Linked DNA regions of Homo sapiens. The protein of the gene in region 1 purifies or fractionates together with the protein of each later gene. This does not show direct contact. Each region holds a gene or a part of one and is shown in the gene's direction. Other genes may lie near its edges.

Evidence for each region.
Region 2: the proteins of TCL1B (region 1) and CCDC6 purify together in Homo sapiens (affinity purification with mass spectrometry; 2 studies listed by BioGRID and IntAct, with this or other methods). This does not show direct contact.
Region 3: the proteins of TCL1B (region 1) and MED16 purify together in Homo sapiens (affinity purification with mass spectrometry, with the first as the bait; one large-scale study listed by BioGRID). This does not show direct contact.
Region 4: the proteins of TCL1B (region 1) and STRN4 purify together in Homo sapiens (affinity purification with mass spectrometry, with the first as the bait; one large-scale study listed by BioGRID). This does not show direct contact.
Region 5: the proteins of TCL1B (region 1) and MED9 purify together in Homo sapiens (affinity purification with mass spectrometry; one large-scale study listed by BioGRID and IntAct). This does not show direct contact.
Region 6: the proteins of TCL1B (region 1) and MED1 purify together in Homo sapiens (affinity purification with mass spectrometry; 3 studies listed by BioGRID and IntAct, with this or other methods). This does not show direct contact.

Annotation. Positions count from the first base shown.
Region 1 is NC_000014.9:95,684,545-95,689,696, forward strand, and holds the start of TCL1B (T-cell leukemia/lymphoma protein 1B), read left to right. Parts: upstream 1-1,881; 5' UTR 1,882-1,923; coding exon 1,924-2,085; intron 2,086-5,152. UniProt on the Homo sapiens protein: Enhances the phosphorylation and activation of AKT1 and AKT2.
Region 2 is NC_000010.11:59,794,414-59,799,020, reverse strand, and holds part of CCDC6 (coiled-coil domain-containing protein 6), read left to right. Parts: intron 1-4,423; coding exon 4,424-4,548; intron 4,549-4,607.
Region 3 is NC_000019.10:868,389-872,995, reverse strand, and holds part of MED16 (mediator of RNA polymerase II transcription subunit 16), read left to right. Parts: intron 1-877; coding exon 878-1,070; intron 1,071-1,742; coding exon 1,743-1,959; intron 1,960-4,049; coding exon 4,050-4,133; intron 4,134-4,496; coding exon 4,497-4,580; coding exon of another isoform or gene 4,581-4,607. UniProt on the Homo sapiens protein: Component of the Mediator complex, a coactivator involved in the regulated transcription of nearly all RNA polymerase II-dependent genes.
Region 4 is NC_000019.10:46,736,451-46,741,057, reverse strand, and holds part of STRN4 (striatin-4), read left to right. Parts: intron 1-1,671; exon of another isoform or gene 1,672-1,748; intron 1,749-2,169; coding exon 2,170-2,273; intron 2,274-2,820; coding exon 2,821-2,894; intron 2,895-4,156; coding exon 4,157-4,235; intron 4,236-4,555; coding exon of another isoform or gene 4,556-4,600; intron 4,601-4,607. UniProt on the Homo sapiens protein: Calmodulin-binding scaffolding protein which is the center of the striatin-interacting phosphatase and kinase (STRIPAK) complexes.
Region 5 is NC_000017.11:17,483,082-17,487,688, forward strand, and holds part of MED9 (mediator of RNA polymerase II transcription subunit 9), read left to right. Parts: intron 1-4,607.
Region 6 is NC_000017.11:39,419,947-39,424,553, reverse strand, and holds part of MED1 (mediator of RNA polymerase II transcription subunit 1), read left to right. Parts: intron 1-732; coding exon 733-857; intron 858-1,108; coding exon 1,109-1,227; intron 1,228-4,607. UniProt on the Homo sapiens protein: Component of the Mediator complex, a coactivator involved in the regulated transcription of nearly all RNA polymerase II-dependent genes.

The DNA of each region.
Region 1 (5,152 bases):
GCAGTCAACAAGCAGCATGCATGTTAGAGCCAGGAACAGCTGGGTCCATATCCTTCCTCTGCTACCCACTTCATTCAGGTTGCTAAGCCACTCAAGCCTCTGATACTTCATCTATGAAATGGGGGTGACGGTCTCTAGTTTATGGAGTTGTTGGGAGGTGTTAGTGAGATACCCTATGAAAAATGCCTGACATGGCATAGGGGCTCCCCACATATTAGGCAACCTTTACCTCCAACCCCACTGACAGCCACACACCTGCCCATCAGGGAGTGAGGTTGAGAATATCAAAATATATATTTGCAACAGAAAATGATAGAGATAAATAGCAATTGCATTGGGGTTACAAGGGTAGGAATGATGGATTCTGCCTGGGAGAGGGAACTAGTCTGAGAACATAACTATTGACCAGGGTATTTCAAGTATTCACTATGTGTCAGGCTTTAACACTATACACACAGCCTCATCTGATCCTCAGAGGAGTCCCATAGGGTAGGTACCTACAGCAAACAGGCTTCAGGGGGGCCCAGGAGACCAGGGGTCCCCATGATCCCTGCCTCCTGGTATTCATAACCTTGAGTAAGGATAGGACCTACCCCTGACCAATGGAATATGGCAAAGGTGACACACGTACGTGATTCCATGTATGGATCACATTATATGAGACTGTGATGTCCCTTGTCTTCCTGGCCCACTCCATTCCCACCCCAAGTGTTGGTTCCTTGGAAAAACACTGGGGATGGAGGTGGAATTGCTGTGAAAACAAGACTCAGTCCTCCACAGAAGCTGCCCAGGGAGTTCTTCAAAAGTGGTTATCCTACCTGCCATTTACACTGGATCAGGACTGTCCAGAAATCATTTTCACATCTCCCCAGCAGAATGGCATCATCTCAATACTAATCTTCACTTGAACTAGAAGAATCATGCTTGTGGTTTTCAAAAGGAAAAGGTTCCTATTCATGGTGCATTTAGAAGCAGCCCAGGGTGCTTATAGAACGGACCTGCTTCTTGCTATGTTCTTGAGCTTCTGAGGCCTCTTGACAAAGTCGAGCAAGTAAGACGACCAGGCCAAGTGGGCACTCTGGGCCCCATGGCCAAGGATGGGCTGGCCAGGTGGCCACGTGGCCTCCGGTGGCCTTGTTTCTGTGGGCTTTATCTGATCCTGAGCTCAGATGCTGATAGTGCACTGGCTTATTTTCTAAGGAGAGGGAGCTTGATTTGTGCAGGATGCGCCTTCACCAGATACCTCCAGGGGCAAGAGTCCACTGAGGTTACAGCGCCCCCCGCCCCCCATGCCTCTAAGCTCTAAGCTCAGAGAAGGGTCCCTGACACAGAGTCCTGTTAAAGGAATGGCCACAGGGATAGGAGAGACCAGGGTCGTGCATGCCAGCTCAGGATCTGGGGCAGGATGGTTGGCAGGGGGTCGTGGGGAGCAAAGGAGGGGAATCACCTGACAGAAAATTGGGCAGGGGTGCTCAGGGAGGAGGCTGCGGAGGGACTGGGACCAGTGGAAGGGAGGTGGAATAGGTCTTAGGAGCCAAATTCCTTGCAGAGGCCTGGGGTGAAGCCTGGGCAGCTCTATCCCCGGGAGCCGCCCTTTTGCCTCCAGCAGCTGCCGGTCCAGCCACAGCCCCTCCAGGAGACCCAGGCCGGGTTCCTAACTCCGCTGCTCTTTGGCCTCGTCCCTGCCTAGCCCCTGCTGCAGGTTGCTTTTTTCCCCCCTCCTCCTCCTCCCTCCTCCCTCCTCCCTCCTCCCCCTTCCTCCTCCTCCCCCTCCTCCCCCGACTGGCCCCGCCCCCACTGCCGGCCCCGCCCCCACTGCCGGCCCGGGCCCCACCCACGCCGGAGCTGCTCCATTTAAGGAGATTGCGCAGCTGGAAAGCTACACGTGTGAGCCTAGAGGCGGGTCCCGGTTGCAGACTTGCCATGGCCTCCGAAGCTTCTGTGCGTCTAGGGGTGCCCCCTGGCCGTCTGTGGATCCAGAGGCCTGGCATCTACGAAGATGAGGAGGGGAGAACCTGGGTGACTGTGGTCGTGCGGTTCAATCCCTCGCGTAGGGAATGGGCCAGGGCCTCCCAGGGCAGCAGAGTGAGTCCTGGGCACGAGGGGAGGCTGTGGGGAGGGCTGCGCACTGACCCCTGCCCGTGTGGGACCGCGGTGGGGGTCAGAGGGGGCCGTTCTCACCCGCACTGGAAAACTCACTTCTGTGCAGGTCTAGGAGCGCAGCAATGTCCATGCCCAGCCCTGGCCCCAGGAACACCCCCCGTAAAGGGACCACAGGCACAAGCTTATCCACATGAGATAATGTGGTCCTGCGTGGTGAAGCCGAGGCTAAGGTAGCTCAGGGCTTAGTGCCATTCCCAGTGCCTGCTGGGAAGGCCCACAAATGGGGCAGCTATTGAGCTGGGCTTTGTGGGATGAGTAGGAGTTCTCCAGGTCTAGAAAGGAGGCAGGAGTAGTATAAGCAAAAGCATTGCAGCCTGGAGGCACCAGGTGGGCCAACAGGATGAACATGACATTGGTGTCAGATTACTGATCTGCAAAATGAGAATAATATACCTCTGTGGCAAGCTAGTCACAGACATGCTCACATACATGGCTCACCGCCTGAATGGCCTGGGGAAGCATTTGACTGATAACAGATTCTGGAAATTAATTCAGGAGGCTTGGGTGGAGTCCTAGATTCTTTACTTTTCAAAAGCTCCCCAGGTGATAATGATAATGACTCAGGAAACGGCTGTAGATGAGGGCTTTAGATCACAGCCAGTCTTTGAGGGATGAAGTAAATACAGTAGCGTTTCTGGTGTGGGTGGCGGTGGGGAATTGATTCCAGGACCGACTGTGGATGCTCAAGTCCCTGATAGAAAATGACCTGGGTAGTAATTACATATAACCTCAGCGCATCCTCTACTATATTTGAAATCAGATTACTAATAACACCTAATGCTACACCTACACATCACTTCAAGCTCTGCTTTTGGGAACTTTGTGGAATTTCTTTTTTTCCCAAAATATTTTTAATCTGAGGTTAGTCGAATTCATGGGTGCAGTATCCATGGAAATGGGGGGCTGGCTGTACCTTAGTGTAATGTGGTAAAAGCATATCCGGATATTTAAAATGCCATTTAGGGCTGGGCGCGGTGGCTCACGCCTGTAATCCCAGCACTTTGGGAGGCCGAGATGGGCTTATCACGAGATCAGGAGATCGAGACCATCCTAGCCAACATGGGGAAACCCCGTCTCTACTAAAAATACAAAAAATTAGCCGGGCGTGGTGGTGGACGCCTGTAGTCCCAGCTACTCGGGAGGCTGAGGCAGGAGAATGGCGTGAACCCGGGAGGCGAAGCTTGTAGTGAGCCGAGATCGCACCACTGCACTCCAGCCTGGGTGACAGAGTGAGACTCCGTCCCAAAAAAAAAAAAAAAAAATGCCGTTTAGGTCTTCGTAAACAATTCACTGCCTGTTTGTTTGTTTTTTGAGAAAGTCTTGCTCTGTTGCGGCTGGAGTGCACTGGTGTGATGTTGGCTCACTGCAACCTCCACCTCCCAGGCTCAAGTGATTCTCATGCCTCAGCCTCCCGAGTAGCTTGGATTACAGGCGATTTTTTTTTACAGTTAATTTTTTTTGTTATTTTCAGGAGAGACAAAGTTTAATCATGTGGGCCAGGCTGGTTTTGAACTCCTGACCTCAAGTGATCTGCCCACCTTGGCCTCCCAAAGTGCTGGGATTACAGGTGAGCCACCTCGCCCAGCCAGTTCACTGACACTTTAAACAATATAACACATTTCCTAAAAAAAGTTCAAATAGGTTATTTCAAAAAATGTTGGTAGAGAACATGGAAAGGCTTTTCTGTACATACACTAAATAAAGCATGCAAAAATTGTGGAGCAAATATTTTAAGTTTTTCAAAAGCCTGAAAAAGTGTTAATGGAGGGCACTGTAAAATGGTGCAGCCACTATGGAAAACAGGATGAGGATTTCTCAAAGAAAGAATTACGGCATAATCCAGCAATGCCGCTTCTGGATATATACCCACAAGACTCTGAAGCCGGAACTTAAGCATGTATTCATACATCCATGTTCACAGCAGTATCATTCATACTAGCCAAAAGGTGGTGGCAGCCCCAGTGTCCATTGATAGATGAATGGGTAAACAACACAAACCATGAAGTATTCACCCTTAAAAGTCAGACACACGGATGAAACTTGGAGCCATTATACTAAATGAAATATGCCAGTCACGGAAGGACAGATTCTCTTGTATGAGGTACTCAGAGTGGTCTCATTCATAAAGTGGAATGGTAGCTGCCAGGGGCTGGAGGGAGTCGAGGATGGGAAGTTAATGTTAGTAACAGGTACGGAGTCTCAGTTTGGGAAGATAAAAAGTTCTGGAGGTGGATAGTGCCGACGGTTCCACATGTCAATGCACTTAATGCCACCAAACTGTACTCTTAAAAACAGTTGGCCGGGTGCGGTGGCTCACGCCTGTAATCCCAGCACTTTGGGGGGCCGAGGCGGGCGGATCACAAGGTCAGGAGATCGAGACCATCCTGGCTAACACGGTGAAACCCCGTCTCTACTAAAAATACAAAAAAATTAGCCGGGTGCGGTGGCAGGCGTCTGTAGTCCCAGCTACTCGGGGGGCTGAGGCAGGAGAATGGCTTGAACCTGGGAGGCAGAGCTTGCAGTGAGCTGAGATCCAGCCACTGCACTCCAGCCTGGGCGACAGAGCAAGACTCCGTCTCAAACAAAACAAAGCAAAACAAAAAAAACAGTTAAGATTTTTTTTTTTTTTAAATGATTCAGTGGAAATAGAATGGATTCTTCAAATAACTTAGCCACGGGTGGGATAAGGGACCTACTTAGTAAGTATTTTTTCCCCTTCTTTCTTAAAAATAGATCGATGTCTTAGGGTGGGAATTAGGCTTCCTGGGCGACACATCTAATGCAAAGATCAGCCACCTTTTTCTGTAAAGGATCTGATGGTAAACATTTTCCACTTGGAGAGCTATGCTCTTGCAGCTACTCAGCTCTGCTATTGCAGTGCAAAAGCAGCTAAAGGCAACGGTAAAGGAATGAGGGAAGGAGCCTTAGTTTATTTACAATAAAGCTTTATTTGCAAAAGCAGATGCAAGCCAGACTTAGTTTGCTGATC
Region 2 (4,607 bases), on another chromosome or scaffold:
CCACTTTTTTTTTTTTTTTTTTTTTTTTTGAAACAGTCTTGCTCTGTCGCGCAGGCTGGAGTGCAGTGGCATGATCTCAGCTCACTATAAACTCCACCTCCCAGATTCAAGCGATTCTCCTGCCTCAGCCTCCTGAGTAGCTGGGATTTATCAGCACAAACCACCACGCCCACCTAGTTTTTGTATTTTTAGTAGAGATGGGGTTTCACCATGTTGGTCAGGCTGGTCTCGAACTCCTGACCTCGTGATCCATCCACCTCAGCCTCCCAAAGTGGTGGGATTACAGGCGTGAGCCACCACGTCCAGCCCACTTTTATATTTTATAGCCTTTCTCTTAAATGTAATCACTTTCATAAGAAATAAAATTAGGATTTTATTCTCCAATGTTTTTTTAAAGAAAACAACTTCTTTCTTTTCCCAGATGAGTAAAGTTCTTGTGATTCCAGTAAATATCACATTAAAAAACCACTTAGTTCCCAAAGACTTGTCCTTTATCCCAGACCTCCATTTTGTAAATGTGAATAAAAACTCCACAATTGGAAATGGAAATATGTCAAATAGAAAGCATCACTAATTCATAGTCAAATCACAAAATAAACTTTTAGTATTAGATGCTGAGGGCACAGAAAAGTCCTGCGATAATAGCACAACTAAAGGAAGGCTTGGCTGAATATCTCTGTCATGGAAACAAAAAAGACAGATGGAAGAGCATACTTAACAGCTTCTTGTTTTTACGTAATTCAGAAAAGCAGTAAGTGGAGTTCACATTGCTTGGCCTCTAATAGCTGATAGTATGTTCAGAGTAATTGTCAATAGGTGATTCCTATCCACATTTCCCCAGACAGCTCCTCTGTTTTCCCTTTTCACTTTGCCAGTATGGAACCTACCCTGTGCAAGGTATTGTGGTAGATGTTGGGAACTCAAAGGTGTAAAGAAAGCTAGCCACATTTGTGCAGTGATAAAACAAGTAATTCCCCAGACCGGCTGGTGACTTCTGCACTGACTCTTGACGAGCAGGGCTTCACATGCCACATGTAGGTGAGGATCGCTTTTAGATGTTCTCAAAATATGGACCCCAATCCAAACCTGTCTAACAGTAAGGAGAGTCTGGACATACAGATGTTAAAACACAGTGGAGATGATCCTGGACTCCTACATGAAGACTACACAGAACATTATATTGGACTGGGGATTGTTTCTTCCTTAAATACCAGGTTCTTTTAGGGAACATTGGCAGGGCTTTCATTCCTTGTATTGAATATTCTCAAGTCGTGATATTCCCAGTGGTTTTGTTTGCTGTTATGGCTGAGACACACACACACACACACACACACACAACACTCTCACTCTCTCTCTCTCTCACTCACTCATGCCCACACTCTCCCTGTCTTCTTCTTGTTGATTTTTTTTTTTTTTTTTTTTTTTTTTTTTTGCTAGGAGGTTCAGTTCATTGGCTACTTAATATCTATCTCCAGTTTGGTCAATTGTTGATACATCTTTTGACATTTCTGGTTTTCTTGCATTTGATATTTACTCCTTTGCTCGATTTTCTCCACTTTATTCTTGTTCTTTCTCATGTCTTTTGCTTTCCTGAATCTCAGTTGAATTCCTGACAGGGTTTGACTTAAAAAAATCATTATTGTGGTGAGACCTCTCAATATAAGATCTATCCTCTTATTTTTAAGAATACAATACAGTACTGTTAACTGTAGTATAATGTTGTGCAGCAACTCTCTGTAGTTTATTCGTTTTGCTTAACTGAAACTTGATGGCTGTTGAGCAGCAGTTCACCGCCATTCTACTCTGTGTCTATGAGATTGGCTATTTAAACTCCTCATATAAGTGGAACCAGGCAGGATTTGTCCTTCTGTGACTGGCTTATTTCACTTAGCATAATATTCTCGAGGTTAATATATGTTGTTGCATATGGCAGGATTTTCTCCTTTTAGACTGAATATTCCTTTATATGTCTATATATATCACATTTTCTTTATCTGCTCATCCGTTGATGGACAGTGAGGTTGTTTCCACATTTTTTTTTTTTTTTTTTGAGATGGAATCTGGCTCTGTCGCCCAGGCTGGAGTGCAGTGGCACGATCTCAGCTCACTGCAAGCTCCGCCTCCCGAGTTCATGCCATTCTCCTGCCTCAGACTCCCGAATAGCTAGGACTACAGGCACCCGCCACCATGCCCAGCTAATTTTTTTGTATTTTTTTTAGTAGAGACGGGGTTTCACCATGTTAGCCAAGATGGTCTCGATCTCCTGACCTTGTGACCTGCCTGCCTCAGCCTCCCAAAGTGCTGGGATTACAGGCGTGAGCCACCGCTCCAGGCCTCCACATTTTTGCTATTGTGAATAACACTGTAGTGAATATGGGAGTGCTAATATCTCTTTGAGATCCTGATTTCAATTATTTTGTATAAATACCCAGAAGTGGGATTGCTAGATCATGTGGTACTTCTAGTTTTAATCTTTTGAGGCATTTTCATACTGATTTCCATAGTGGATGCACCATTTTACATTCCTACCAACAGTGTATAAGGATTTTTTCTCCGTATCCTCACCACCACTTGTTACCTTTTTTTTTCTTTTATACAACCTACAAATTGGGAGAAAATTTTTGCAACCTACTCATCTGACAAAGGGCTAATATCCAGAATCTACAATGAACTCAAACAAATTTACAAGAAAAAAACAACCCCATCAAAAAGTGGGCGAAGGACATGAACAGACACTTCTCAAAAGAAGACATTTATGCAGCCAAAAAACACATGAAAAAATGCTCACCATCACTGGCCATCAGAGAAATGCAAATCAAAACCACAGTGAGATACCATCTTACACCAGTTAGAATGGCAATCATTAAAAAGTCAGGAAACAACAGGTGCTGGAGAGGATGTGGAGAAAGAGGAACACTTTTACACTGTTGGTGGGACTGTAAACTATTTCAACCATTGTGAAAGTCAGTGTGGTGATTCCTCAGGGATCTAGAACTAGAAATACCATTTGACCCAGCCATCCCATTACTGGGTATATACCCAAAGGACTACAAATCATGCTGCTATAAAGACACATGCACAGGTATGTTTATTGTGGCACTATTCACAATAGCAAAGACTTGGAACCAACCCAAATGTCCAACAACGATAGACTGGATTAAGAAAATGTGGCACATATACACCATGGAATACTATGCAGCCATAAGAAATGATGAGTTCATGTCCTTTGTAGAGACATGGATGAAATTGGAAATCATCATTCTCAGTAAACTATCGCAAGGACAAAAAACGAAACACCACATGTTCTGACTCATAGGTGGGAATTGAACAATGAGAACACATGGACACAGGAAGGGGAATAACATCACACTCTAGGGACTGTTGTGGGGTGGGGGGAGGGGAGAGGCATAACATTAGGAGATATACCTAATGCTAAATAACGAGTTAATGGGTGCAGCACACCAGCATGGCACATGTATACATATGTAACTAACCTGCACATTGTGCACATGTACCCTAAAACTTAAAGTATAATAATAATAATAATAAAAATGAATAAGAAAAAAAATAATAATGGCCAACTTAACAGTTATGAGGTGATATCTCACTGTGGTTTTGATTTGCATTTCCCTGATGGTTAGTGGTGATAATCGTCTTTTCATATATCTATTAGCACATTTGTGTATCTTTTTTAGAGAAATGTGTATTCAAGTTCTCTGTGCATTTTTTCATTGGACTATTTGAGTGTGTTTGTTTGCTTTGAGTCATAGGAGTTACTTATGTATTTCGCATATTCACCCCATACCAGGTATATGGTTTGCAAATATCTCCTCCCATTCTATAGGTTGCCTTTTCAGTCTGTTGACTGAAAGTTTCCTTAGCGCAGACACTTTTTAGTTGAATGTAGTCCCACGTATTTGTTTTTGCTTTTTTTTTTTGTTGCCTATGTCATATCCAAGAAATCATTGCTAAGATCAATGTCAGGGAGCTTTTCCCCTATTTTCCTTCTAAGAGTTTTATAGTTTAAGGTCTTATAGTTAAGTCTTTAATCCATTTTGAGTTGACTTTTGTATATAGTGTAAGAGATAAGGTCCAGTGTCACTCCTCTGCATGTGAATATCCAGTTTTCCCAACACCATCTGTTGAAGAGACTGTTCTCTTTCCCCGTTGTGTATTCTTGGTGCCCTTTTTGAAGATCAGTTGACCATATACGTGTGAGTTTATTTCTGGGCTCTCTGTTCTATCCTAGGAATTAACATTTATTTCCCTTGTTATCCACACCATTTAGTGAGCCCATCATTCTTTTCATCTGTTTGTATTTTTGTGGGTGATAGAGAACTACTGCGATTTAAAACCTCCTAGATAGTTGAAGACACCAGATAGTTGAGCTTAAAATGATACTTAATTTGTTGTTATATTTTAGGTCTATCATATGCAAGTCACACGGTTGGTTTCACGCCACCAACTTCACTGACTAGAGCTGGAATGTCTTATTACAATTCCCCGGGTCTTCACGTGCAGCACATGGGAACATCCCATGGTATCACAGTAAGTGTCCGTGGGGTAGGAAGCAGCACTTTACTCCTGAAAGTGGTACCGACTGGTGT
Region 3 (4,607 bases), on another chromosome or scaffold:
GGAGCCCTCCCCCACCTCGGAGCCCTGCCCCACCTCGGAGCCCTCCCCCACCTCGGAGCCCTCCTCTCCATGAAGCCTCTGCTGTAAGAAGCCTTTCCTTGGCCACACCCTTCCTGCCCATTCTCAAAGCCCCGCCTCCCAGGCCCTGCTCCTTCTCAGCCCCACCCCTACACGAAGGCCGGTTCGCCTTGCTTCTGCTGCTGCTGCCCCCACCCCTTACCCTCCCCAGCTCCCTGCGCCTGGGGTGGGCGGCCTTGAAATCAAGTCTCCATCCACACCTCCACCTTCAGTTCTGCGGCTTGTGCGCCCCTGACCAGGGCTCCAACCTCGCCCCCACCCCCCCGCCGGTACACTCTGTCCTGCCCCAGCTGTGATTTCTTCTGCCCCACCCACCCGGCTTCATCCTGCCCTGGGGCCCGCCCTTCTCCACCGCGCCCATCACGGACGGTTTGAAGTCCCTCTCTTCTTTTTGTGGGGCTTTAGGCTGCCAGGGGCCACCCCTGGGGCCTCCCTTCCCTGGTCCTCTCAGCTCCCAGTACAGTCACCAGGGGCCCGGGCCCGCAGCTGTAGGAGGGGGCGGCTGCTCCTCCACGTGCAGGTGGGGATATTGGCCTCAGCCAGAGCCTCGTCTTAGTCTTGTGGACTCTCAGGGATGGGACGACTCTGCAAATGGGGCTGTCCTGGGCCCTGCAGGGCTCTGAGCAGCGTCCCCGGCATCCACCCACTCGGTGCCAGAAGCACCCCAGTCCTGACCACCACAAATGTCCCAGACCCTGCCCATTGCCCCCCGGTCGGGGTTCCACCGACCCCAAGACACTTCATCCCATCGCCATCTGCCCCCCGCCGCCCCAGCCACACCGATGCCTCTTTCGGGCAGGGTTCCCTGCTGAGGCCGGGCCACAGCTTTCTGCGGGACGGCACCTCGCTGGGCATGCTTCGGGAATTGATGGTGGTCATCCGCATCTGGGGCCTTCTGAAGCCCAGCTGCCTGCCCGTGTATACGGCCACCTCGGATACCCAGGACAGCATGTCCCTGCTCTTCCGCCTGCTCACCAAGCTCTGGATCTGCTGTGAGGCACCCCCGCCCGCCCCTCCCCTCTCCCCGCTCCCCGCTCTCCCCTCTCCCCGCTCCCCGCTCCCCGCTCTCCCCTCTCCCCGCTCTCCCCTCTCCCCGCTCTCCCCTCTCCCCGCTCTCCCTTCTCCCCGCTCTCCCCTCTCCCCTCTCCCCGCTCCCCTCTCCCTACCAAAACACAAGTCCTGCCTGAGCCCCCCGCCAGAACATAAGCCCCTGCAGGTGGCAGTGGCTCTGCCTTGATATCTGCTATTTCCCCAGTTCCTAGCACAGGTCCATGCTCTGTGTGGGTGCTTTTGGGATGGCAGCCACTTCCAGGCACCTGTTTGCTGTCTCTCCTTGTCGGGTTGTGTGTATGTGAGGAGGGTGAGCTGTGTCATTCTTACATCCCAGTGTCTGGAAAAGGCACAGTGCTTCCCACATACTTTTTAAGTGAATGAGGGAGTCTCATGACAGGCCAGAGACGGGGAGAGAACTCTGGGGTCACCCAGCCAGGCAGGCAGAGCCGGGGCCCCGACCTGGTGAGAGAACCCCGGGGTCACCCAGCCAGGCAGACAGAGCTGGGGCCCTGACCTGGTGCTCCTGAACTGGAGGGGCTCCCAGCACGTCCCGGGTGGCCGGGCGGTGCCCCAGTCAGGGGTGCTGAGACTTCCGCCACCTCTCTCCGCAGGTCGCGATGAGGGCCCAGCGAGCGAGCCGGACGAGGCGCTGGTGGATGAATGCTGCCTGCTGCCCAGCCAGCTGCTTATCCCCAGCCTGGACTGGCTGCCAGCCAGCGACGGCCTGGTTAGCCGCCTGCAGCCCAAGCAGCCCCTTCGTCTGCAGTTTGGCCGGGCGCCCACGCTGCCTGGCAGTGCTGCCACCCTGCAGCTCGACGGCCTCGCCAGGTGCGTGTGTCCCTGCATTGGTCCCCAAACACAGGACTCCTTCCTCCGTGTCCTGCCCCGGGACCCCCGAATCCACACGGCTCCCTCCCTGCATGTCCTGCCCCAGGTCCCCCCGAATCCACACGGCTCCCCGCCTCCATGTCCTGCCCGGGACCCCCCGAATCCACACGGCTCCCTCCCTCCATGTCCTGCCCCGGGACCCCCCGAATCCACACGGCTCCCTCCCTCCATGTCCTGCCCCGGGTCCCCCCGAATCCACACGGCTCCCTCCCTCCATGTCCTGCCCCAGGACCCCCCCGAATCCATACGGCTCCTTCCCTCCATGTTCTCCAGTCATGGCCATGACTGCTGCTTCCTTCTAGGTGCCCCTAACTCCATCCCCTAGTGGTGTCTTCTGCTGTGTCACGAACCACCCCCAACACGGGCACCCAGCCCTTCCATTCACCCTCTCCCTTTTTTTTTTTTTTTTTGTCTCCCCGACAGGGTCTCACTCTGTTGCCCAGGCTGGAGTGCAGTAGTGCCGTCTTGGCCCACTGCAACGTCTGCCTCTCGGGTTCAAATGATTCTCCTACCTCAGCCTTCCCAGTAGCTGGGATTACAGGCATGAGCCACCACACCTAGGTATTTTTTGTATTTTTGGTATAGAGGCGGTTTTGCAATGTTGGCCAGGCTGGTCTTGAACTCCTGACCTCAGGTGATCCACCTGCCTCGCCCTCCCAAAGTGCTGGGATTACAGGTGTGAGCCACCGCCCCGGCCTTGCCTTGGTGTTTCCTGATTGTGTGTTGGCCTCGCTGTACAGGGCGCCCTGCCTTAGCCTCTGCCCTTAGTCTCTGGCCCCCCTGGATGTCAGGCCTCGCCGTAGATCCCTCTGTGGATGGAGAGAGACGCCTTAGCATATGGCCCAGGGCCCTGCTGAGCAGACACCTCATCAGGAGGATCTCCCGGGGGCAAGAGGTCACCTTGCAGGGCCCGGGGCTGGCCTTTCTCTGGAATGTGCGGGGTTTGGGCAACCCAAGTGTGCTGAGCTGACCCTGGCTGCCCAGCAGCCCTGTGAGGTGGGACCTTGTCACCCCATTTCACGGTGAGGAAACCCAGCCTGGAAAGGGTGGGACCTTGTCACCCCACTCATCTGGGGTCACGCGGTCAGGAAGTGGCCGAGTCAGGATTTGAACCCAGGCCCGTCAGACCCCCAGCCTGTTTCAGACACACGTTTGACAAGGAGCACATGCAAACCCTCTGAGCCACTGATTGCTCAGGGCTGGAATTTTAGAAAACACAGATGAGCAAAAGGAAGAAAATGAAGTGAACCTCCAGCAGCCCTGCTCCGGGGAAGGCCCCGGCTCGGCTCCAGGACCTCCAGGGAAGGCACCCCCGGCTTGGCTCCGGGACCTCCGGGAAGGCGCCCTGGCTTGGCTCTAGGACCTCCAGCATTTTCTTCCTCGTGCTCACTGTGGGAGGGGCCTCCTAATGAGTCACACACGAGGGTTTGGGTTTCAGGAAAAGACTTGATGGAAAGAGAGGACGGTTACGTCAGAGGCTTGTAAACTGGGAAAATTTCAGATATTTAATGAGAGCAGAATAAGCCGGCCCACCCCCACCCAGACCCAGGTCCCCCACCCACCACCGAGGGCAGCTTTTGCCACCAGAATCTTGTCGTTCAGAGGTCCCGGCACCTCCAGGCCGGGTGTCTGGGCAGAGGTGGTGTGGAAGTCCCCATGTACCTGCTTCTGTCCAGCCTCAAATGGGAGCGTCACAAGCACCTTCCCTGCACCTCAGGCTCCCCGGGCACGTGGCGGACCGACCCTCGTCCCTGTGTGGGCCCCGTCCCCTTTACTGGGTCTCTAAGCCTCAAGCTCCCCAGGCACCTGGGAGACCAACCCTCCTCCGTGTGGGGGGTCCCGCCCCCTTTACTGGGCCTGTCTCAGGTGGTCCCGCACCTCCCACCTCACTGTTCACAGACATCTGGGCCCACCTGGCAGATGGTGTGAGGCCGGCCATTCCCTCCACCCCCGCCTGTGGACAGATGCCCCTGCCGGAACCTGGCCTCGTGGTGCCCAGGCCTCCCTCACGTTCTCCCCTCTCCCGCCAGGGCCCCAGGCCAGCCCAAGATCGACCACCTGCGGAGGCTGCACCTTGGCGCTTGCCCCACGGAGGAATGCAAGGCCTGCACCAGGTGAGGGGCCCCCGGAACCGCTGACTCCCAGAGATGTGCCGCTGGGGATGGCTCAGCTGATTCTAGCCCCCACCCAGCGCTCCAGACGGTCAAGGGTGGTGGAGGGAGCACGTCCCAGAGGGAGTGTTGGAGCCAGGATCCCAGGATGTGGAGCAGTTAACTTGGTGTGGCGGGGCTAGTTCAGGGAGCAGCATTGCTGGGGGGAGGAGAAGCATGGGCAGAGGCCCTGTGGCAGGTGGGGACGTGGGGAGCAGGCGTGAGGGACGGCGAGCAGAGGGAGACCTGCCTGGAAGCAAAAGTGGGGCAGGCGTAAGGGAGGCCCGCCTGGAAGTGGGAACCCGCTCAGTGCCTGCCTCCCCGCAGGTGCGGCTGTGTCACCATGCTCAAGTCGCCCAACAGAACCACGGCGGTGAAGCAGTGGGAGCAGCGCTGGATCAAGAACTGCCTGTGCGGTGGGCTCTGGTGGCGGGTGCC
Region 4 (4,607 bases), on another chromosome or scaffold:
GGTTACCTCTCTGTACTTAAAACCCTTCCATGGCTTCACTGAGCCTTTTACAGGTTCTGAAGCAGCCATCCTGGCCTTTTTTAGAGTTCCTTAAGCCCACCATGCAGCTCTTGTCTCCGTCCTCTGCCAGCAGGGCCCTTCCCTCCCCTGGCTAACTTCTCTTCAGCTTCAGGCCTTAGCTGAATTGTCGCCTCTTGTCCCTCTTCCCATAGCGTCCTTCGCTCCCGCAATGGGGTCCTAGTCACATTGCATGTGAGTTGCTGCTCATGCCTGTCTCCTGCATGGGACTGAGCCCTGTGGGTGCAGGAACCACATGGCTCCTCTGTTATTCCCCAGCGCCTTACTGGGGCACCTGATGTGTGTGGGCAGTCACCAAACAGTGGCAGGTATTGACCAAGGTGTAGGTTCCCGGCAGGCTGAACTGCCCCTGGGAGGTTGAGGGATCAATCACCAAACCCCAGGAGGGAAGGGAGGAGAGTGAGGAGGAAAGTCAGGACTTGTCTTCGGTGGTCGGTCTGCCTCTCCTCACACCTTCTCCAGTGATTCAGAGAGTAGATTTGGGGGACTGAGAAGATACACAAAGGACAGAAACTCATGCTTCAGAGATGCTGATGTCATATAAGTAGTTTCCCTGTCTGGCCTTGGATGTTTATATACATATGTGTTGGTAAAAAGTGTTAAAAAGGAAAAAAATTTCCCATTCTTGAAGCGGACAGATGAGTTTTCTTTTCTATAAGGTAACTGGTGACATGTATTTCTTTTTTTTTTTGAGACGAAGTCTGGCTCTGTCGCCCAGGCTGGAGTGCAGTGGCACGATCTTGGCCCACTGCAATCTCCACTTCCCAGGTTCAAGCGATTCTCCTGCCTCAGCCTCCCGAGTAGCTGGGACTACAGGTGTGTACCACCATGCCTGGCTAAGTTTTTTGTATTTTTAGTAGAGATGGGGTTTCACCATGTTGGCCAGGCTGGTCTTGAACTCCTGACCTCAAGTCATCTGCCCACCTCAGCCTCCCAAAGGGCTGGGATTACAGGCGTGAGCCACTGTGCCTGGCCAATCCACAGACATTTCTAGTTGATCTGGGGTCTCCAAGGGATCCTACCTCCCGTAAGGAACTGGGCCCATTTCGAAGTTGCGAACAATGGACAGGGAGAATAAAAATGATGAAAGAAGTAGAAGCTGGCATTTGTTAGCCTTTATTCTGTGCCAGGCCTTGACTGAGCAGAACCTAGCACATGAGGGGAGGGCACTCTTGTGACTCTCATTTTCTAGAGGGGCAAATGGAGGCTCAGAGAAGGCTGATGACCTGCGTAAGATCATGTAGCGAGTAAGTGTCTAAGTTGGGCCTGGGCTCTGGCTGTTCTGGGCTGGAACGGTGGGGTGCTTGGGGAGAAGCCAGAGATGAGCCTTGGGCCAGGGCTTTGGCAGAAGAGCTTCTGGACCATGGTCAGGGGCCAGGATCCTGCCTGGAAGGCAGTGGGCCCAGTGTCTCCAAATGACCTGTTGACAGACTGGAGCAGACGGGGCAGCTCAAGCCAGCAGACGGTGTGAAGTGCTTGGCAGGAACCCGGGGTCGTGTCTGTGGCACATTTCTCTCACACCCTGGGCGGAATGCAGTGGGACGGCTGGTCCCCACAGCGGGCTTGGCTTGTAAAGCTTTTCTATTGGAGCAGGAGCCGAGCCGAGCCACCCACTCTTGTCCCTAAGCTCCAGAAGTAGCTTCCCACGCCTCCCAGAGACAGATGCTCTGGTAAGAATAGTGGGACGCCACCTCCACCAGCAGCCTTAGGGACAGCACCTGCCAGAGGGCGTCAGGGGTAGTCCAGGGCGGTGAATGCCCACCCTCCTCTCCACTGCCATCCCTGACCCGACTTCCCCCCAAAGGCAGCCACCAGGTGAGGCCCAGGCTGGCCCCATTGTTATCTCAGGGGTTAAGGGCTCCCCTTCGGCCCTCGTTGTGGGTGACGTGGCAGGGGGCCCTGGAAACAGATCCATCCTGTCCTCTCAGTGCTCCCTGAACCCTGGCTTGGGATCTTTGTGCCTGAGGAAGTGGCTGCTGCCCATTACTGTGGGGTGACTGTGGGCTGGCACTATACCTGGGTGAGTGATAGACACACCGGCATTGAGCCTGAGCCCCATTATCTCCCTTTGCCTCCTGTCTGCCCTCCCAGGCTCAGGTGGCCTTCCTTCAGGGAGAGAGGAAAGGGCAGGAGAATCTAAAGACGGACCTGGTGCGGCGGATCAAGATGCTAGAGTATGCGCTGAAGCAGGAAAGGTGAGCCTTCATCCTGCCCTGGGCCTGCCTTCTGGGTCCGTCTCAAGCACAGTGTCAGGAGGCCACCAGCCACGCCTCCTTCCAGCTAAGGGAGATTTGGGGTCGACATTCTTTTCCATCATTCCAGTACCATAAGATTCTAGGGGAGAAACAGGACAGAGTAGGTGGGATTTGGGTTAGACACCAGGAACGATATTCACGATGCTAGTGGCCCACTGTGCGCCAAATATCGTATAGTCCTTACCTCCGTTATCCCTTATACCTTCCAATAGCCTAACGGGTATTGTTAGCCCTGTTTCAGATAAGGAACTGGGGTTTCAAGGGCTGATGGTTTCCTCAAGGACCCCTGAGAGCAACCTAGGTTGCCTGACTCCAGGGAGTGGTTTCTTCCACCAGGCCAGGGGTGTGGGGGGATGCTTCAGCCTCAGTAGTAGACGAGCTGGGGGAGGCCCTGTGATTTGGGGTTTGGGATTCTGGATTCCTTAGGTAACTACTGACCCTGTCTACTCTCCCGCATCTCTTATTCATTAATCATTTGCTCTTTTAGGGCCAAATATCATAAACTGAAGTTTGGGACAGACCTGAACCAGGGGGAGAAGAAAGCAGATGTGTCAGAACAAGGTACCCACCCTCTGATGCTCGCACTGTCGGCACCCTCCCGCAGAAGCTGAGTGTTCTGGAGAAGCAGGAAGATGGGGTGCCTCTTTCTCACTTTGCTCCTTAGAAGGCAGAATCGGCCCCGGGGCTGGGGAGGGGCGGAATCTCACTCTCAGAGCCCTCCCTATGGGCTGCCAGGTCCCGTGCTGGACCCTGGGGGCCAGTCCCGCTTGGGTCCCCCTGTGCAACAGAGGCAGACACACGAGCAGCTCACGGGATCCCTTTGCGAGGAGTGGGCGCCAGGGCTATTTATAGAGTGCTGGGGACGGTGCGGGAAAGCCGGGGAAGACGTCACTGAGGAGGTGGCGTTTGAACAGGGTTGCCGTTCAATCGTTCATCCAAAAAAGACTTTATTTGTAGGGTACAGGCTTTGTATCACAGATCAGGAATACAGCAGAGAGCACGGGAGACATGGTCTCTACCCTCTGGTCCCTTAGAGTCTAAGCTCCTTGAAAGATGACTCCGTTCCCCAGCAGGAGAGTCAGGGGAGAGAGCACAGATACAGAGACGCACGCTGAAAGGGTTAGGGGACAGGGAGTCGGTCAGTGTGCCTGGGCAAACAGTGTAGGGCAGAGGATGTGGGAGGGCGGGCTGGGTGAGGGGGAAGCTTGGCCGAGGCAAGCTGAGAAGACCTTGTGTGCTCAGCTGATAGTGATGGTCATTACCTGCTGCCAGCTCCTCTCACTAGAACGGAAGTTCCACAAGGGCAGGTCTTTGTTTACCCATGTAGCCCAGGCCCCTGGCCAGGCACAGCGTAGATGCCCAGGAAAGACTTGAATAAAATACTAAGCAAATTATCTCATTGCATCCTCTCAGCACTCCCAAGAGGGAGATGCTGTTATCATTAAGCTCATTTCTCAGAGGACGAAACTGACACGGCTTACACTAACTCAGGGTCACACAGCTGGGATGGGGCAGAGCTGGGCTTGAACCCAGTCGGCCCTTCTCTCAGAACCAGGCCAGCTTTCTGGTTTTGAGATAACACCCTTATCTTGTCGGGGGCCAGTTTGGGGAACCACCAGTCAGGAGACCTAGAGATGAGGAACGCTTCAAGGAGGAGGAATCCCCGAGTAAGGGAAGAGAGCAGGGTTCCAACACTCAGGAAGTGATGCCACAGGACCTGCGACAGTGACCGATTTGGGTTGGAGGGGTGAGGAAGATGGAGGAGGTGATGGGTAGGTGGCAGTGGCCTGACTTAAGACAGCCTCCGTTCTCTCACCCGCCAGTCTCCAATGGCCCCGTGGAATCGGTCACCCTGGAGAACAGCCCGTTGGTGTGGAAGGAGGGGCGGCAGCTTCTCCGACAGTGAGTGTGCTCGGGGAGGGGGGCTGGGGACACGTGACACGTTTGGCTTGAGAGATAAGTCCAAAGACTCCACAGTCCTTTTCCGTCCCCACTGGGGATGCTGAACTATCAGGATCTTAGCCAGCCATGGCTGGAATGGCTTTCACCCTGTGGGCGGAGCCTGGCCTGGGGAGAGGGAGGGAAACCCGCTGCAGGAGGCAGACGTGGGGACACCCCTGTTGGAATGTGTCCCTGAATGCCTCTGTGGCTTTTTTTTTTTTTTTTTTTTTTGTCTCAGTGGCCATAGGAGCCCTGTGTGGCTTTTTTTTTTTTTTTTTTAGATACCTTGTGAAGATTTATGAAGCATGGCTTTTTATTTCCCAAGGGTAATAT
Region 5 (4,607 bases), on another chromosome or scaffold:
CATGATGCTTTTGTTAATGGAACATTTCGTCTTTAATCTGCTTCTTTACTTCCAAGCCTGTTGATACTACTCATTGGCCAGGTCGTTGAGCCTCGCTTTTGAGTATTATAATCAGCATTTAATTAGTCTCTTTGCCTTTATGCTTATTTTATCTTGTGAATGTTATTTGGCTAATTTTTCTTTGTTCTCCATTCTTCTCAAATTGAGCCCAAACTTAGGCCTTTACTCAGGGATCTCTGCAGACCATTTTCAGATTGTCTGCCTGAATAACCCAACACAAAGCCCACAGAGGGTCCTCTTGCTGCAGGTGCTGTTGGGTGGGCGGAGTCCTCCAGGCTGGCAGACCCTCCAGCCCCTCCACTAGAAGTGCCCACAGAAATGCTGCACAGAGCCCTGTGAACCAGAGCCTCTCCTGTACCCCCAGGGACCCACCTGGTTCTGGGAGTGCTCTGGCTGGGACAGCCCTGCTTGGAGTTGGAACCCATAGCACTTTCATCTCTTCTAGTGTCTTTCCCGCAGTTGAATGAAAAATTAAACTACACATTTATGTTATTTTTAAAGAATGAGGAAAGGGAGGCTGGGCACGGTGGCTCACACCTGTAATCCCAGCACTTTGGGAGGCCGAGGCGGGTGGATCACGAGGTCAGGAGATCGAGACCATCCTGGCCAACACGGTGAAACCCTGTCTCTGCTAAAAATACAAAAATTAGCTGGATGTGGTGGTGCACGCCTGTAATCCCAGCTACTAGGGAGGCTGAGGCAGGAGAATCGCTTGAACCCGGGAGGCGGAGGTTGCAGTGAGCCACGATCGCACCATTGCACTCCAGCCTGGCGACAGAGCGAGACTCCATCTCAAAAAAAAAAAAAAGAATGAGGAAAGGGAAAAGAAATCCCATTTTCATGCCTATAAGAAATATTATAAATCCCAACTTTGAGACTTTCTTGATATATATAGATGCTACATTTTAAAAATGCATCATAAAGGAGTAATGAAATGGGGTCTGTTAGATTGGGGAAAATTATTATTTTTTCCTTCAAACTTAACAAATTTGAATCTGAGTTTGGAATGAAGTAGCTCAGCCTAGGCCTTCTGAATTACAGTTGTTGCTGCCTTGCGTGATGGTTTTGGCTCACTTTGTAAGAGTAATCTGTCGACATTGGGTACTTTAAAAACATTTTTTAAATTCAATGTTTTAATTCTTTACAAGGTCTAAGGCTGCTAGGTAGGTAGAGGGGAGCCGTCCTTGCCACCACAGATGGGGCTCAAGTGATGAGCACGCTGTCTGGCCCCTCCAGCTTGGCCTGGCCGCTTCAGCAGGTCAGCAAGACCTCAGAGCCCCAGCCAGACCTCTTTTGTGGGAACAGGGTGTTATTGACTGTCTTCTTCCCACTCAAGTATCTATTTTAATCTGCCCTGGCCTTCCATGCCAGCTGAGACCCGTTCCCGGGTTGTGCAGGAAGCGGCCCCCGCTAAGTGCCCACACTGGCTTCCCGGGGATAGTCCGCATGCAGTTACTGCAGGCCTCTGCCGTTCACTTTCTTCTCCCTCAGCCACACCCCAGGGAGCAGGATGAGCAGCCACAGATAGGGGGTGTTCATAGACTGCTCAGATGAGGTGTTTCCAGTCTGCCTAAAAGCCTCTTCACTCCTCTGCCATGTCATTTCCATCCACTCAGTATGACTTATAACCAGAAGGTGGGCCCCAGCAGAGGCAAGCCCCACGAAGGCAGGCCTTCGCGAGTCAGCACTTCCTTAGTGGGCGTGAGAAATGCCAGGCAAGCATTTACGTGGGTCCTGGGAAGGGTGGGAAGCTTTGCCTAGGAAGGCTGGAAGCACTTGTGGTGGCACTGGGGGGGTCTCCTTCACAGTTTGAATTTGCCTGAAAGGTGTTATCTGTGGGTAGGAGGCCATCTGGAATTATTTTATTTTATTTTTTATTTTTGAAATGGAGTCTCACTCTGTCGCCCAGGCTGGAGTACAGTGGCGTGTCTTGGCTCACTGCAATCTCTGGCTCCCAGGTTCACTTGAATCACTTGATTTCCGTGCCTCAGCCTCCCAAGTAGCTGGGACTACAGGCACACGCCACCATGCCTTTGTAAAAAACAAAACAAAAAAAAATTGTATTTTTAGTAGAGACAGGGTTTCGTCTCTGTCTACAGGCACACGCCACCACGCCTTTGTAAAAATACAAAAAAAAATTTTTTTTTTGTATTTTTAGTAGAGACGGGGCTGGCCTCAAGTGATCTGCTGACTTCAGCCTCCCAAAGTGCTGGGATTACAGGCGTGAGCCACCGGCCGCCATCTGGGATTTTTAAGCAGCATAGTGACCTGCTCAGACTTGGGTTTCTAAAGGTAGGTGGGGCAGAAGTGTTTCAGAAGAGGGGAGGACCTGGGTCCACAGGAAGGCAGTGGCAATGGGAGGTGGCTGGTCTAGAGGAGATGGAGCTGGCAGGATGGTGGCTGGAAGAAGGGGGCACACAGGTGCAAGCCTGGGGGTCCTAGCGTGGCCAGTAGAGTGTGTAGGTGGGACTGCACCCTCCCCCCGTCCCCTGCTGACAGCAAGTCTATGCTGGATATTTGCCATCTGCCAGACTCCAGGCAGGAATGACTTGGTAACTGTGGAGGGAGGAAACTCAAGTACAGGAAGGAAGGCTGACTGGGGAGGTGGTCCCCGTGTCGAGGGTTCGGGAGTGGATGAACACGTTCTGGGCATTTTGTAGTGCAGTGATTTTCATACTCCGTTTAGCAGCAGCACCTTTTGTCACTCTTTGCTAAAAAGAATATTTTTTACATGTAATGCTGTTAGCAGATGAAAGCAAGGGTGTGAGTTCAAGGCCTCCCTCTCCGGAAGGCCTCATAGGTCTTGGCAGAACTGGAGCAGAGAAACACAGTTGATAGGTAAGTAGTAGCCAGTATCATCCAGGGCGGGATGGAGAAGTGTGTCCTCCGTGGCTACAGATAATCTACATCAGTACAGTTTTTTTTTTGGAGGGCATTTTGGTAATATCTGTCAAAAATTTAAATATATATAACCTTTGACCCAGAATCCCTACTTTTAGAAAATGATCTTACCAAAATACTTGCACAAGTGAGAGGTGACAGCGTGCTGGCAGTCCTCAGAGCCCTCACTTGCTCTCGGCACCTCCTCTGCCTGGGCTCCCACTTTGGCAGCACTTGAGGAGCCCTTCAGCCCACCACTGCACTGTGGGAGCCCCTTTCTGGGCTGGCCAAGGCTGGAGCCCACTCTCTCAGCTTGCAGGGAGGTGTGGAGGGAGAGGCGCGAGCGGGAACCAGGGCTGCGTGCGGCGCTTGCGGGCCAGCTGGAGTTCCGGCTGGGCGTGGGCTTGGCAAGCCCCGCACTCGGAGCAGCCGGCCAGCTCTGCTGGCCCCGTGCAATGAGGGACTTAGCACCCGGGCCAGCAGCTGCGGAGGGTGTACTGGGTCCCCCAGCAGTGCCAGCCCACCGGCGCTAAGCTCGATTTCTCGCCAGGCCTTAGCTGCCTTCCCGCGCAGCAGGGCTCGGGACCTGCAGCCCGCCATGCCTGAGCCTCCCACCCACTCCATGGGCTCCTGTGCGGCCCCAGCCTCCCTGACGAGCACCACCCCCTGCTCCAGGGCGCCCAGTCCCATCAGCCACCCAAGGGCTGAGGAAAGCAAGCGTACGTGCAGGACTGGTAGGCAGCTCCACCTGCAGCCCCGGTGCGGGATCCACTAGGTGAAGCCAGCGGGGCTCCTGAGTCTGGTGGGGACGTGGAGAGTCTTTATGTCTAGCTCAGGGATTGTAAATACACCAGTCAGCACCCTGTGTTTAGCTCAAGGTTTGTGAGTGCACCAATCTACACTCTGTATCTAGCTGCTCTGGTGGGGACGTGGAGAACCTTTATGTCTAGCTCAGGGATTGTAAATACACCAATCGGCACTCTGTATCTAGCTCAAGGTTTGTAAACACACCAATCAGCACCCTGTGTTTAGCTCAAGGTTTGTGAATGCACCAATCGACACTCTGTATCTAGCTGCTCTGGTGGGGCCTTGGAGAACCTGTGTGTCCAAACTGTATCTAACTAATCTGATGGGGACGGGGAGAACCTTTGTATCTAGCTCAGGGATTGTAAATGCACCAATCAGCGCCGTGACAAAACAGGCCACTCGGCTCTACCAATCAGCAGGATGTGGGTGGGGCCAGATAAGAGAATAAAAGCAGGCTGCCGGAGCCAGCAGTGGCAACCCGCTTGGGTCCCCTTCCATGCTGTGGAAGCTTTGTTCTTTCACTCTTTGCAATAAATCTTGCCACTGCTCACTCTTTGGGTCCACGCTGCTTTTATGAGCTGTAACACTCACCGCGAAGATCTGCAGCTTCACTCCTGAGCCCAGCGAGACCACGAGCCCACCGGGAGGAACGAACAACTCCAGACATGCTGCCTTAAGAGCTGTAACGCACACCGCGAAGGTCTGCAGCTTCCCTCCTGAGCCAGCGAGACCACGAACCCACCAGAAGGAAGAAACTCCGAACACATCTGAACATCAGAAGGGACAGACTTCAGACGCGCCACCTTAAGAGCTGTAACACTCACTGTGAGGGTCCGTGGCCTCATTCTTGAAGTCAGTGA
Region 6 (4,607 bases), on another chromosome or scaffold:
GCTGTTACCCCACTTGAATTTCTAGAGGTTGGCCTTTTGTTTTATCCATTCATTGGTTTCTCTTTTGTTTGATATCTGAGTGTTCCTCTCCAAAGTCGGCTCGTAGAACACATTCTCTGCACTGAAAGGGAAAGAAGAGAACTGTGCTAATTCCTCTGGCTTAATGAGTGCCCCCTTTTATCTTACGTTCATTAGTTACATTGGAGTAATAACTGGAGAACATGCCTCAGGATAAATGTTTGATTAAATTCTACAGTGTTAACCAATAGCATGTCTGGGAATTGGGGGTAGGAAGTTTCACAGAGTGAGCTTTTGAGAGTTTGTACTTATGTGTCTGTGTGATACATACATGTTTAAGAATAGGTGTTTGTGGCCAGGCATGGTGGCTCACGCCTGTAATCCCAGCACTTTGGGAGGCTGAGGCAAGTGGAACACCTGAGGTCAGGAGTTCAAGACCAGCCTGGCCAACATGGTGAAACCCCATCTCTACTAACAATACAAAAATTAGCCGGGCGTGGTGGCGGGCACCTGTAGTCCCAGCTACTCACGAAGCTGAGATAGGAGAATCCCTTGAACCCGGGAGGCAGAGGTTGCAGTGAGCCAAGATCACGCCATTGCACTCTAGCCTGGGCATTAAGAGGGAAAATCTGTCTCAAAAAAAAAAAAGGTGTTTGGGTTTTTCATTTTTATATCAAGTCAGAATCCAACCCTTCCACCCTCTTTTTTTTGAAGGACCCCTTCCTTCTCCTCAATCACCAGTGCCAACAGTGTTGATCTTCCTGCCTGTTTCTTCTTGAAATTTCCCCAGCCAATCCCAGTATCTAGAGCATTTGTTCAGAAACTGCAGAACTGCACAGGTGAGTTTTGAGCATCAGGATCTAGTACTTGTTATAAATGTGAAAAAGAAACTTCAAAGTCAGGTTATCATGACGTCTTTCAGTCTTACATGCCTCATTGAAGTATTACTGGTAAAGATGTTATAGTGCTTTGTACTAGTAAATGCTTAGTAAGTACTCTTTTGGGTGAATGAATGTAGATATCAAGGGGAAACTGAGCTGTCAGTGTTTTCATCTTAACATGATCATTATATTGATTCTTGTTTTTCCAGGAATTCCATTGTTTGAAACTCAACCAACTTATGCACCCCTGTATGAACTGATCACTCAGTTTGAGCTATCAAAGGACCCTGACCCCATACCTTTGAATCACAACATGAGATTTTATGCTGTAAGTAAAGCCCTAGGGAGCTAGAATGTTGTAGGTTATGTTTGGACCCAAGATCATAATCTTCCTTTATAGCATTATTGAGGTCAGATAAGTTTCTTCAAGACTGCTGGATCATGTCCTATTTCTTTAGTAAGGCAGGAAATTACAGAAATCTCAGAAATGGGCTGGGCGCGGTGGCTCACACCTGTAATCCCCGCACTTTAGGAGGCCAAGGCAGGCGGATCGTGAGGTCAGGAGTTCGAGACCAGCCTGGCCAACATAGGGAAACCCTGTCTCTACTAAAAATACAAAAAATTAGCCGTGTGTGGTGGCGGGTGCCTGTAATCCCAGCTACTCGGGAGGCTGAGGGAGGAGAATGGCTTGAATCTGGGAGGCAGAGGTTGCAGTGAGACAAGATTGTGCCATTGTGCTCCAGCCTGGGTGACAGAGCGAGACTCTGTCTCAAAAAAAAAAAAAAAAAAAAGAAATCTCGGAAATGTATTGAAGTAAAAGGGCATGAGCTTCCATTAGGAAACAACAATGTACAGTTCTTTGTTGAAATTTTGGGTGATTGGCCAGGTGCAGTGGCTCACACCTGTAATCCCAGGAATTTGGGAGGCCAAGGCGGGTGGTCACTAGAGATCAGGAGTTTGAGACCAGCCTGGATAACATGGTGAAACCCCGTCTCTACTAAAAATATAAAAATTAGCTGGGTGTGGTGGAACATGCCTGTAATCCCAGCTACTTGGGAGGCTGAGGCAGGAGAATCACTTAACCCGGGAGGCAGAGGTTGCAGTGAGCCAAGATTGCGCCACTGCACTCCAGCCTGGGCAACAAGAGCGAAATTCCGTCTCAAAAAAAAAAAAAAAAAAAAAAAACGAGGCTGGGCGTGGTGTTTCACATGTCTAATCCCAGCAGCACTTTGGGAGGCCGAGGCAGGTGGATCACGAGGTCAAGAGATCGAGAGCATCCTGGCCAACAGGGTGAAACCCCATCTCTACTAAAAAAATACAAAAATTAGCTGGGTGTGGTGTCATGCACCTGTAGTCCCAGCTACTCGGGAGGCTGAGGCAGGAGAATTGCTTGAACCCGGGAGACGAAGGTTGCAGTGAGCCAAGATCGCACCACTGCGCTTCAGCCTGGCAACAGAGCAAGACTCCGTCTCAAAAAAATAAAAAAGAAAAAGAAATTTTGGGTGATAGACTTTTTTTTTTTTTTTTGAGACGGAGTCTTGCTGTGTCGCCCAGGCTGGAGTGCAGTGGTGAGATCTCAGCTCACTGCAAACTCCACCTCCCGGGTTCATGCCATTCTCCTGCCTCAGCCTCCTGAGTAGCTGGGACTACAGGCGCCTGCCACCATGCCTGGCTAATTTTTTGTATTTTTAGTAGAGACGGGATTTCACCATGTTAGCCAGGATGGTCTCGATCTCCTGACCTCGTGATCCGCCCGCCTCGGCCTCCCAAAGTGCTAGGATTGCAGGCGTGAGCCACCTTGCCTGGCGGGGTGACAGACTCTTAATGGTATTTTGAACTTTTAGAATATCATAATTAGGTGTTATAAATTCTTACTGTTTAATTCTTTCAAGTGCCATGAGCTTAGAATCTGGAAAGATCCTGAAAGTACTTACAGAGAGGAAAATGCTGGAAGCAGTAATTAAGAGGCTGGGCACAGTGACTCACACCTGTAATCCCAGCACTTTGGGAGGCCAAGGCAAGGCAGATCACTTGAGCTCAGGAGTTCAATACCAGCCTGGGCAACGTGGCAAAATCCTCTCTTTTTTATTTTTTTATTTTTTGAGATGGAGTCTAGCTAGCTCTGTTGCCAGGCTGGAGTGCAGTGGCGCGATCTCGGCTCACTGCAACCTCCGCCTCCCAGGTTCAAGTGATTCTCCTGCCTCAGCCTCCTGAGTAGCTGGGACTGTAGGTGTGCACCACCATGCCCAGATAATTTTTGTATTTTTAGTAGAGACGGGGTTTTACCATGTTGGCCAGATTGGTCTTTATCTCTTGACCTTGAGATCCACCCTACTCCGCCTCCCAAAGTGCTGGGATTACAGGCGCAAGCCACCTTGCCTGTCCTTTTCTTTTCTTTTTTCTTTTTTTTTTTTTTGCTCTTGGTGCCCAGGCTGGAGTGCAGTGGCACGATCTCGGCTGACTGCAACCTCTGCCTCCCAGGTTCAAGCGATTCTTCTGCCTCATCCTCCGGCAAAATCCTGTCTCTACAAAAAAAAAATACAAAAATTAGGCTGATGTGGCCGGGAGCGGTGGCTCACGCCTGTAATCCTAGCACTTTGGGAGGCCGAGGCGGGCAGATCATGAGGTCAGGAGATCGAGACCATCCTGGCCAACATGGTGAAACCCCGTCACTACTAAAAAACACAAAAAATTAGCTGGGTGTGGTGGCGGGCGCCTGTAGTCCCAGCTACTTGGGAGGCTGAGGCAGGAGAATGGCGTGAACCCGGGAGGTGGAGCTTGCAGCGAGCAGAGATCGTGCCACTGCACTCCAGCCTGAGCTACAAGAGCAAGACTCTGTCTCAAAAAAAAAAAAAAAAAAAAATAGGCACATGTGGTTGTTCATGCCTGTAGTCTCAGCTGCTCGGGAAGCTGAGGGGCTTCATCCTGGGAGGTAGAGATTGCAATGAGCCAAGATTGCACAATTGTACTCCATCCTGGGTAATGGGAGTGAAACCCTGTCTCAAAAGTAATAATAATAATAATAAGGGAACGTTCCAAAACCTCATCTGGACTTGTATTTATCTGAATCTTTTACAATAGACTAAAGTAGTGGTTACCAAATTCTGGCTGCATTATTATTATATAGGTGTTTTATTAAAAATAGAGAATTTGCAGCCGGGCGTGGTTGTTTATTCCTGTAATCCCAGCACTTTGGGAGGCCCAGGTGGGTGGATCACGAAGTCAGGAGATGGAGACAATCCTGGCTAACACAGTGAAACACTGTCTCTACTAAAAATACAAAAAAAATTAGCCGGGCGTGGTGGCGGGTGCCTATAGTCGCAGCTACTCAGGAGGCTGAGGCAGGAGAATGGCATGAACTCGGGAGGCGGAGCTTGCAGTGAGCCGAGATCGCACCACTGCACTCCAGCCTGGGCAACAGAGGGAGACTCTGTCTCAAAAAAAAAAAAAAAAAAAAGAGATTTTGCATTTATGGTTTAGGAACCTCTTTAATACAGATTTCTGAGGTAGTTTTTATGTTAGCTAGGTTAGGAAATCACTAGCATAGTGCATTTACTAAAAAGACATCTTTTCAGCCTAATTAGTAATTGATTGACATTTATAATATCAGCTGATGAAAACATTCACTGTGGAGACTTTTCTGCACTTTTTTGAGTAGTAGGTTTTTTCAGGATACTTTGTGGTTGGAATACAATAGGTAACTAAATA